Linked DNA regions of Homo sapiens: region 2 is reported to be linked to region 1. Evidence: microRNA targets listed by miRTarBase, many of them from high-throughput screens and not tested one by one. Region 1 holds a microRNA gene; the other region holds the end of a gene's coding sequence.
The links. The annotated mature microRNA hsa-miR-548y reads AAAAGUAAUCACUGUUUUUGCC and lies in region 1 at 2,321-2,342, shown strand. An mRNA with a match to its seed (bases 2 to 7 or 8) in the 3' UTR can be bound and repressed. Matches are read on the target gene's strand: a 7mer-m8 pairs with bases 2 to 8, a 7mer-A1 pairs with bases 2 to 7 and ends in A, and an 8mer does both.

Region 2: miRTarBase lists FRY as a target of hsa-miR-548y. Seed matches in the 3' UTR shown: 7mer-m8 at 2,966-2,972, 7mer-A1 at 1,694-1,700 and 7mer-A1 at 288-294.

The regions. Positions count from the first base shown.
Region 1 is chr14:47,758,751-47,763,402 of GRCh38, reverse strand. MIR548Y (microRNA 548y) reads left to right here and starts at 2,299; the gene lies at 2,299-2,408.
Region 2 is chr13:32,295,055-32,299,353 of GRCh38, reverse strand. It overlaps FRY (FRY microtubule binding protein), which reads right to left. Exons shown (of 61, transcript NM_023037.3): 61 at 229-4,152. The coding sequence ends at 3,894. Among named protein-coding and RNA genes, the nearest start is that of ZAR1L, 18 kb to the left of the region's middle.

The sequences.
Region 1 (4,652 bases):
TCAGTTTCTGTTTCTCTTCACTGATTCTTCTCATGGTCATGGCTCACATTTTCCTGCTTCTTCTCATATACAGTAATTTTAAATTTGGCCCCAAACTATGAGAGCTATATTGTTGAGTGTTTGGATTTTGTTGCCATCCTTTTACAAATGTCAATTTCATTTGGCTAAGTAAGTATGTAATTGTGGATCAGTGTGATTCTTTAGAGGTTTGCTTTTAAGCTTTTTAGGCTGGACTTAGAGAATTCTTTACCTCGGGACTACTTTAGCACTTATACTAAGGCCTGAACCTTCTCATGTTTCCACTGAATGTTGTAGATGTTCAATCTATTCTGGTTGGTTCAGAAGTAAACATTTCCCCGCCCTACCTGAGCTCTGGGAGTCCTTCAGCTTAAAGCTCCCAGCCCTTTGACTTTTCCCATGCATGTACAACTTAGTACCTAGAACATTCTCAAGGAGACCCCTGTGCATATTCCTGGAGCTCCTCCTTCACCTACTTTCCTTCTCACTGGTAATGTGTCCTACACATTCAATATTCCAGGTAAGTCAGTCTTCCCTAACTCTGATCTCTGTTTACTCAACTCAGTGAGATCATGCTAGTGACCCCCTCTGCACCACAGGTTGGAAAGTAGTTCCAGGCAGTTAATAGAGCTCACTTTGTTTCCACTTCCCTTGGACCATAATCCTAAATTGCCTAATCTCCTATATCTGAAAGAATTTGACTCATACATTTTCCAAGTTTTCCAGATATTTATAATGTTAGGAAAGCTCCTGTCTCTGTTAATCAGCATGGCCAGAAGTAAAATTCTGTGTCTGTTCATTCTTGACATTTTCGTGTTTACTGATTTTGTAATTTCACCTATTATTTATTTAAACATTTCATATATAGCATTTTACATTCAATTTCTGATAATTTCTATATCTGAAGCCATTGGGAGTCTTAATTAGATGTTTGCTATTTGTTGTTTCTGCTGTCTCACTCACCATGGCTTGATTTCTTTAATCTTAATCTTTAGGTATCCTAGGGTCAACTTTTTCTCCAGGGTAGAATTTGAAATTATCTCTGCTAGGAGTTTGATGTAGTAAGACCTGGGACCAGGCTTGCTGACATAATGCCAGGTTTCCAGGATCAGCTCCCTCAAGCTTAGTCTCTGGAACACAATGCTAATTTCAACACTTGTCTCAGGCTAGCTCCAACTTTCCCATTTGTGTCTTGCAGGTAGCGCACTGTTCTTTGATTCTATCTCAGGATTCAGGTCATTTTTTGCATGTTTATTAGGTTGTTTATTTAAGGGGTGCTTGGAGATTTACTTATTTCCCTGCAACCACAGCAGTGCATTGAAATGTAGATTTTATAAAGAAGCTAGTAGTTTTCCTCATAAGTTATTTATGTTGATTCTGAAGATCTTTATGTCTTGGGTGTTTGGTTTTGGTTTTAGCACTGTGTGTGTGTGTGTGTGTGTGTGTGTGTGTATGTGTGTGTGTGTGTCTGTGCGTGTGTGTGTAATTTCATCTTATTTTGCAGCAGATCCAGTGTGCTTCTCAAATATTAGGTTCATGCTATTGATTTTGAAAAAATCATCATTACCATCTCATTCCCTCTTATTCTTTCATTGAATCTATCCCATTTTAATCTATTATCTTATTTATCTCTTAAACTTGCTTTTAGTAACTGTAAAATCCTCAGCTCTTTCTCTCTGTTAATTGCCTGTTGAGAATTATCTGCTTTTTAATCATCGTGTCGGAGTCTATTATTTGCTTTCTCAATATCCATATATTTCGTGTAGTAATGCTATTTTTAGCTGAATATGTGTCCATTTACCTAAATATAACATTTTTCAGCACTTTTTGCAGCTACTTTGGGTCAGTTAAATGGTATATACGTGAAATTGATGTACAACATTTGGATCACAGTTTTAAAAGGAAAAGAGTAGGTCTTCCCATTCTTCTTTCCCACTACAATGGAATGTATGTTTGTGGCCCCCTAAATTCATATGTTGAAACCGTAATCCCTCATCTCAATGTGATAGTGTTTGGAGGTGGTACCTTTCAGAGTCGATGAAGTAATACTGTTAGTGCTCTCATGGATGGGATTAGTGCTCTTATGAGAAGAGGCCATAGAGTAGCTAGCTCTCTTCCCTTCATATGAAAATAAGATCTTGGTAGTCTATAAACCAAGAAGTGAGCCTCAACAGACACATAATCTGCCAGCACCTTTATCTTGAACTTCCTAGCCTCCAGCACTATGAGAAACAACTGTTTGTTGTTTAAGCCACCAGCCTATAGTAGTTTGTGACAGCAGCCTAAACTATTAGGTTGGTGCAAAAGTAATCACTGTTTTTGCCATTACTCTCAGTGGCAAAAACCGTGATTACTTTTGCACCAACCTAGTAACACCTTCACTGTGGGGGTGCAGACATGGCAGATGTGGAGCATCCAAGCTGGACTCTGATTAAAAAGCTAATTGAGGAAGTTACAATAAAGGATCTGGTTTGTTGACAATGTGGAAATGTCTTATCTATCATCGAAGTCCTGAAATGCTTACAATTTATGAAAGAGAAATAGGCCGGGCGTGGTGGCTCACGCCTGTAATCCCAGCACTTTGGGAGGCAGAGGCAGGCGGATCATGAGGTCAGGAGGTCGAGACCATCCTGGCTAACACGGTGAAACCCCGTCTCTAACAAAAGTACAAAAAATTAGCTGGGCGTGGTGTCGGGCACCTGTAGTCCCAGCTACTCCGGAGGCTGAGGCAGGAGAATGGCGTGAACCCGGAAGGCGGAGCTTGCAGTGAGCCAAGATGCATCACTGCACTCCAGCCTGGGCGACGAGCGAGACTCTGTCTCAAAAAAAAAAAAAAAAAAGAAAGAGAAATAAACATCTATCTTATCTGAACTACTGTTTATGTGGAATTTTGTCAAAGCCACCCATATCCTGTTCAGGATTTATATATATTATATATATATAAATCTATATATTAGAAGGTTTTTCTTATTTAATATATTTTTCATTTTATAACTTCTATTTGGCCTCTTTTCAAATATATCTGCTTTTTATGTCACCTTATCTCTTATAGTAATTGATTTCCTCTTTCCTGCTTCATTCAATTTAAAGCTACTTATTTTATAGTCTCTATGTCAGAGTCTGATCTGAGAAGCAGTACCACCAGATTTGTGTATAATAAGGGATTTGTAATAGGGATTTGCCTTATATATTTGTGGAAACTGTTGAAAAGTCTTTGTGAAACTATTGTTTCTGTGTCTAGTGCTGAGCCTAAAGTCATCAGCGCACACAGTCTGAAAGATAAAATGGACGTAAAATGAGGGAAGCGAGACAAACTGGTACCTGCAAGAATAAACCCGAATCTATCAGGACAGAGTTGCAACCCTGCTTCCATGTGTCCAACTTTAAAGTTGGGGTAATCTGCAGGAGGAGCTGCTATGAGCTAAACCATACCTCACTGAAAGTCAGAGTGATTGAAAGTGGGTGTCTGGCAGCTGTGGCATTTCTGAGGGCCCAGCTACTGCCCTACTCCAACAATGTGATCCCACAGATAAATGACACCTGTGTGAGCTACAACAGTGCCATGTGCCCAGTGCTGACTTTCTGAAAATAAAAAGAATATAGATGCTGTTTCATTTCATCCTTCCAACTCTCATACAAAATATCTCTCATGGCCCTCACTAACAAAGATGATATGGTTTGGCTGTGTCCCCACCCAAATCTTATCTTGAATTCCCGAGTGTTACGTGAGGGACCTGGTGGAAAGTAACTGGATCACGGGGGCAGGTCTTTCCCATGGTGTTGGGTGGGTCTCATGAGATCTGATGGTATTACAAGGGGGAGTTTCCCTGCACAAGTGCTCTCTTTCTTTGCCTGCAGCCATCCATGTAAGACATGACTTGCTCCTTCTGCCGTGATTGTGAGGCTTCCCCAGCCACATGGAACTGTAGGTCCATGTTAAACTTCTTTCTTTTGTAAATTGCCTAGTCTCAGGTATGTCTTTATCGTCAGTGTGAAAATGGACTAATACCAAAGAACTATGCTTGGAGGGGAATTCTGGGGAATGCAATTCCAGTTTAGTTCATTTGGCATGATACAAATCCACCATAGTCTCTGTAGTAACCAACATTCAATATTTTCCTAGTAAACATTGGCTCCTGGTATTCACACTCCTATCTAATTCCATCCCACAATTAATAGGACTTACATATATGACAGATAGAATATTGTTGAAGTGAAAGTGTGTGATGTAAGAATTAGGTCATTAAAAAGTTTACAGCCTCCTCTCTGGTCTTCCATTTTTCTCATTTTGGGAGGAGTTAGCTACCGTGTTCTGAGGACACTCAAGTAGCCATGTAGAGAAGATCATATGGAGAAAAAACTCAGGCTGACTGCCAACAGTAAGCACCGATTCTCCAGCCATGTGAAATAACATTAGAAGCAGCTTCTTCATCCCCAATCAATTCTTTAGATAATTCAAACCAGTCAGCCCTCAAGTCTTCCAGCTGATACGTCAAATAATGTGGAAGTGGAAAGAAATCACCCATCTGCACTGAGTGTGTGACCCTTAAAAACTGAGAGATAATATGATTAGTGTTGTTTAAGCCACTAAGCAACAGTTAAATAACACAATCTTTAGTGCTAGATACTGCTTT
Region 2 (4,299 bases), not on the chromosome of region 1:
CTGTTTGGGCTAAACTCTCTCCCATTCCACGTGTCATTGGTAAGCCCTGTCAGCTCTAGCTCTGAACTATTTCCAGAATATGCCCACAACTAATCATATCCCTTGCTAGTACCCTAGCCCAAGCCAGCATCGCCTGGTGACTGCACTGTTGCCACAGCCATCTCTCTAGTCTTCCTGCTTCTACCTCTGCCCATCTGCAGTCTATTCTGCACATAGCAGCCAGAATGATCCTTTAAAAAAATTATTTTTATTGTGGTAAAACATATATAACATAAAATTTACCATTTTAAAGTACACAATTCATTGGCATTAAGTACATTCACAATGCTGTATAACCACCACAACGGAACTTTTGTTATAGAGCTTTTCTTCATCGCTATGAAGGAGTAATCCTTTTAAACATAAGTCACAGCATGTCACTACCCTGCCCGCAAACATTCAGTGGCTTCCCATCTTGCTCAGCAAGGGACAAAGTCCTGCCGTGGCCCACAGAGCTTTTGGCTGTCCTCTCTGAACGCTCTCTTCACTCATTTCACCCGGTCATTGGCTTCCTTGCTGTCCCTTTGACAAAGTGACCCTGCTTCTCCTTCAGGGTCTCTGCATGTGTTTTTTCCTTTGCTGGAATGCTCTTTTCCTTGGATATCCATTGTATCCTCACTTCATTCAGATCTCTCCTCAGATATCACCTTATTAGAGTGATAGCTAAGATAGCCCTGTCCACATTACTCACTGTATCCGTTTTGTTCTTCATGGCACTAATCATCACCCAACGTAGACAAGTACATCTTCCTCCACTCAAATGTAGGAGCCTCATGGGAACAGGGACCACATCTGCCTTGATAGCTGCGGTGTCCTCTAAAACAGTGCCTAGCCCAGAGTGGGCATGCAATAAATATTTGCTGAACAAAGAAATATCCTGGGTCATGATAGGTATCCAAATATTAATTGATCTCAAACAAATGCATTGAAAACTTTAAAAACTAGTTTCATTGAGATACAATGAACATACCCTAATACTCACCTATGGACACGAATTTTTTGTTGTTAAGGCAGGCATCAGGAAGCACGTGTAAGCTATTGATGTAAGCAGCCTGGAGGTACGCTTATTCTTTCCAGAATTCTACAGTTCACTGAAAAGATCATTGTTTGTTAGGACTTAGAACCAGAAGAGCCTTGAGACCTAACTCTGGATGTTCACGCATGTGTGTGATGCCTACAATTAATTACAGGCATCTTTATTTCACAGTAACATCGGCACATTTTCTTAACATCTCACCGATGTTAGATGGGTTAGAGGTGGGAATGACATTCACGTGCCTCTAAAAATGTGCAGTGCCTTTTCTAAAACACTATATTTGGAGACTATAATTTTAATCAAGTGATGTCTAAGTTACAGAGCGCCTGTCTGGATTGCTTTATTCTGCAGGTGGATACAAAGTGTATCATGTTTCAGTGCTAGAAAACAGTGAGACACAAGGAGGCATCTTTCTTATCACTGAGGCATCTGTTAAATATCTACCCTTTCCTTTGGTACTTCTACTTCTTTGTATCCCTGGGGAAGGCAATTAACATTAATGCTTCTGTAACAGAGGCACAGAGCAATAGCCGACAAGATTTGACTGGTAGATCTAAAGTTATTGCTGGGCTCTGCTGGCGTGGGGCTGCATCCTACACAATTTTTCCCATCTCCACTTAAAGTAGAGGAGGTGAAGAGATAGAGGAAAAGTAGAAGAAACCTTTCACATTAATACATCTCCTTTTAAAAATAAAATTGAGAAAAACACAGACCACTGCTTCCTATGTTAATATCTTGGATTGTAATGTACTGTTGAAATCCTTTTTTTTTTTCCTTCCCTTTTTAAGAGTAAACCATCACGGTGGTTCTCTGCTGGGTAAGAAGCCATGGTAGAAAACTCAGTTCATGACGAATCTGTTCTTTCTACTGTGGCTCCCAACAAAACTCTCTGAAAGTTGTCTACTGTGGTTAGCCACAGAAACCTTTATTTTATGATATTTTTCAGAGAGATCATGATTCAGTTGTTTCTACAAATCATAGCAAATCATCTTTCAGGCAAGTTGAAAAAAATAAATCATCAGAAAAATATGTTTTCAGCAGTCCAGAAAATTATTAAAATCTAGTAGTTGCATCTGTAGCAACTACTAGGATTTAAAAAAAATCCTAGGTTAGGCTCTCTTCTATAGAATACTCCTAGAATATTACTGCCAATGATTCAGTAGCCATATGCTAGTAAAGCAAGCTATATTTGTTGGTCCATGTAAAATATGAGTAGAAAGACGGCATAAATGAGATTGTTACATGTTTCTCCCTGTGTTCCTGGGGGATAGGTGTTGGTGACAGAATTACAACTCTACTACTTTTTCCTGCTCACTATAGAATTAACTTCCAAATTTGAAGGATGACAACCTAATTATAGGTTATGGAGAATTAGAGCTCTCACTTTTTTCTGATTTTTCTCTTTGGTTGATTACAGAGAATTGGTTGAAGCTCACAGTTTTGATGCCAACTTCCAAAGAGATAATACTTACCTCCAGCTTCACAGGGCCATGCATGGCATGACCCCCACGGGTGCCATTCAGATCATACATGCGAGGGGTGCCCCTTGGGGTTATTACTTTGGCAACCCACATGCAAAACTTCATGTGTGCCCAGGACAAACATTTTCATTAACCAGAAATAAAGTCCATGGTCAACGTGTATTTTGTCTTTTTTTTTTTTTTTAGTCTAAAGAAAGTTCTGAACAGAATATCAATTAAGCTTACATCACAAAAACTTTAAATGTATTTACAGAGTGAATAAGTTACATAGATAAACTCTGAATATGTTTCTGCAGTGCAACAAGTTCACATGCACACATCTAACACTTGACAGCATTAAGTTTAAGGAGAGAACTTAAGAATGGCCCTTTACATATATATTACACATAAAATATGACATCGAAGAAACAAAGTAACAACTCATATTTTACCTTTATGATTCTACTTCTGACTATCCAAACAGATATTAAAATATGCATGCCTGACAGGTGAAAAGACTTGGAATTTATCTTGTGAATAGTTTTCTCTACAAAACGGCAAAGTTAATTAAAATTAACACTCATCCTTCAGCAGTATAAATATGCTCATAAAAGCAACCTTCTAGTAAAAAGCAGCCAAGATCCTTAAAAAGAGTCTATCTGGACCATTTTTGGTGCAAAGAGATCCAGGGCTTTCAGAAACAGTAGCCTAGCAACATAAGAAAGGTACTTCATAGCAGCTCCTTTTAGATACAGTAATTGTATTCAAATTACAGTGTACATTACATTGCAGTCCATTTACAATTCCCTTTTCACATACACAGGCTGTCAGCTTTTGACCATCTTACAGTTTTCAGTGGCCAGCTTCATTTTGCCTGCCCCTTTCTCAGCCCACGAAAGAAAGGAAAAAGAAAAAAGAAAAAAGAAAAGAAAATGGAACAAGACAGGGAAAGAATATACATGTTTGAGAATATAAAATTTTTTGAGTGAAGAAAACATTGCACTTTTGCCAATCTAAAATTGTTTCTAGAAAGGAAGGTACTGTTCAGTGTAGTCGGCTTTGGTATGCAACGGAAGTCACTTCTTCAGTAGCGAGTTGCATATGCTCGGTCAAATGTAACACATTTGTGCCACACAGCATGATGAGTGGAGTCTGTCCAGGACGTTCTAAGCTACCTTGGTTCTTATAGTATTGCTACACGTTGGAAGTTCTGCCATCCTCTTTAGAAAAAGCCCTACAGGTAACAAGAGGGAGAACAGTCTGTCCAAGCCTTTTGAAGGCCGAGAAGACACTGAATGACGTTGCCCCAGCATGGCAGCACTGCCAGTTTGGAACCCAGTGGGGACAGGAGGCTCCTGTCAGAGACTAGTGCCAGAAACACTGGAGTCTGGAAGAAAAGTAGTGAGGACTCGGTAACTCTGGGCCCTGCGGATCATGTCCCGGATCTCCATGTTCAGCTCCATCAGCTTGGTGCAGATCTCGGTCAGGCTCTGGTTAGACCCCACCAGGGCATAAGTACCCGTCTGTCCCAGAGTTTGGTGACGGAAATAAATATTCAGTAGTGTCTGGACCTCATCATCAGAACTGCTTCCAAAGATGTCATTGGGCCACAGACTTCTGCAGTCAAAAAGAACAGCACAGATTAGAGGCACTATTAGTCACAAAGTTGGGAGCTTATGAGTCTTCATTAATATAAGAGTATTACTTTTTAAAAAGGCTTTATTGAGATGGAATTCCTGTATCAGGTAATTCACTCATCTAAGG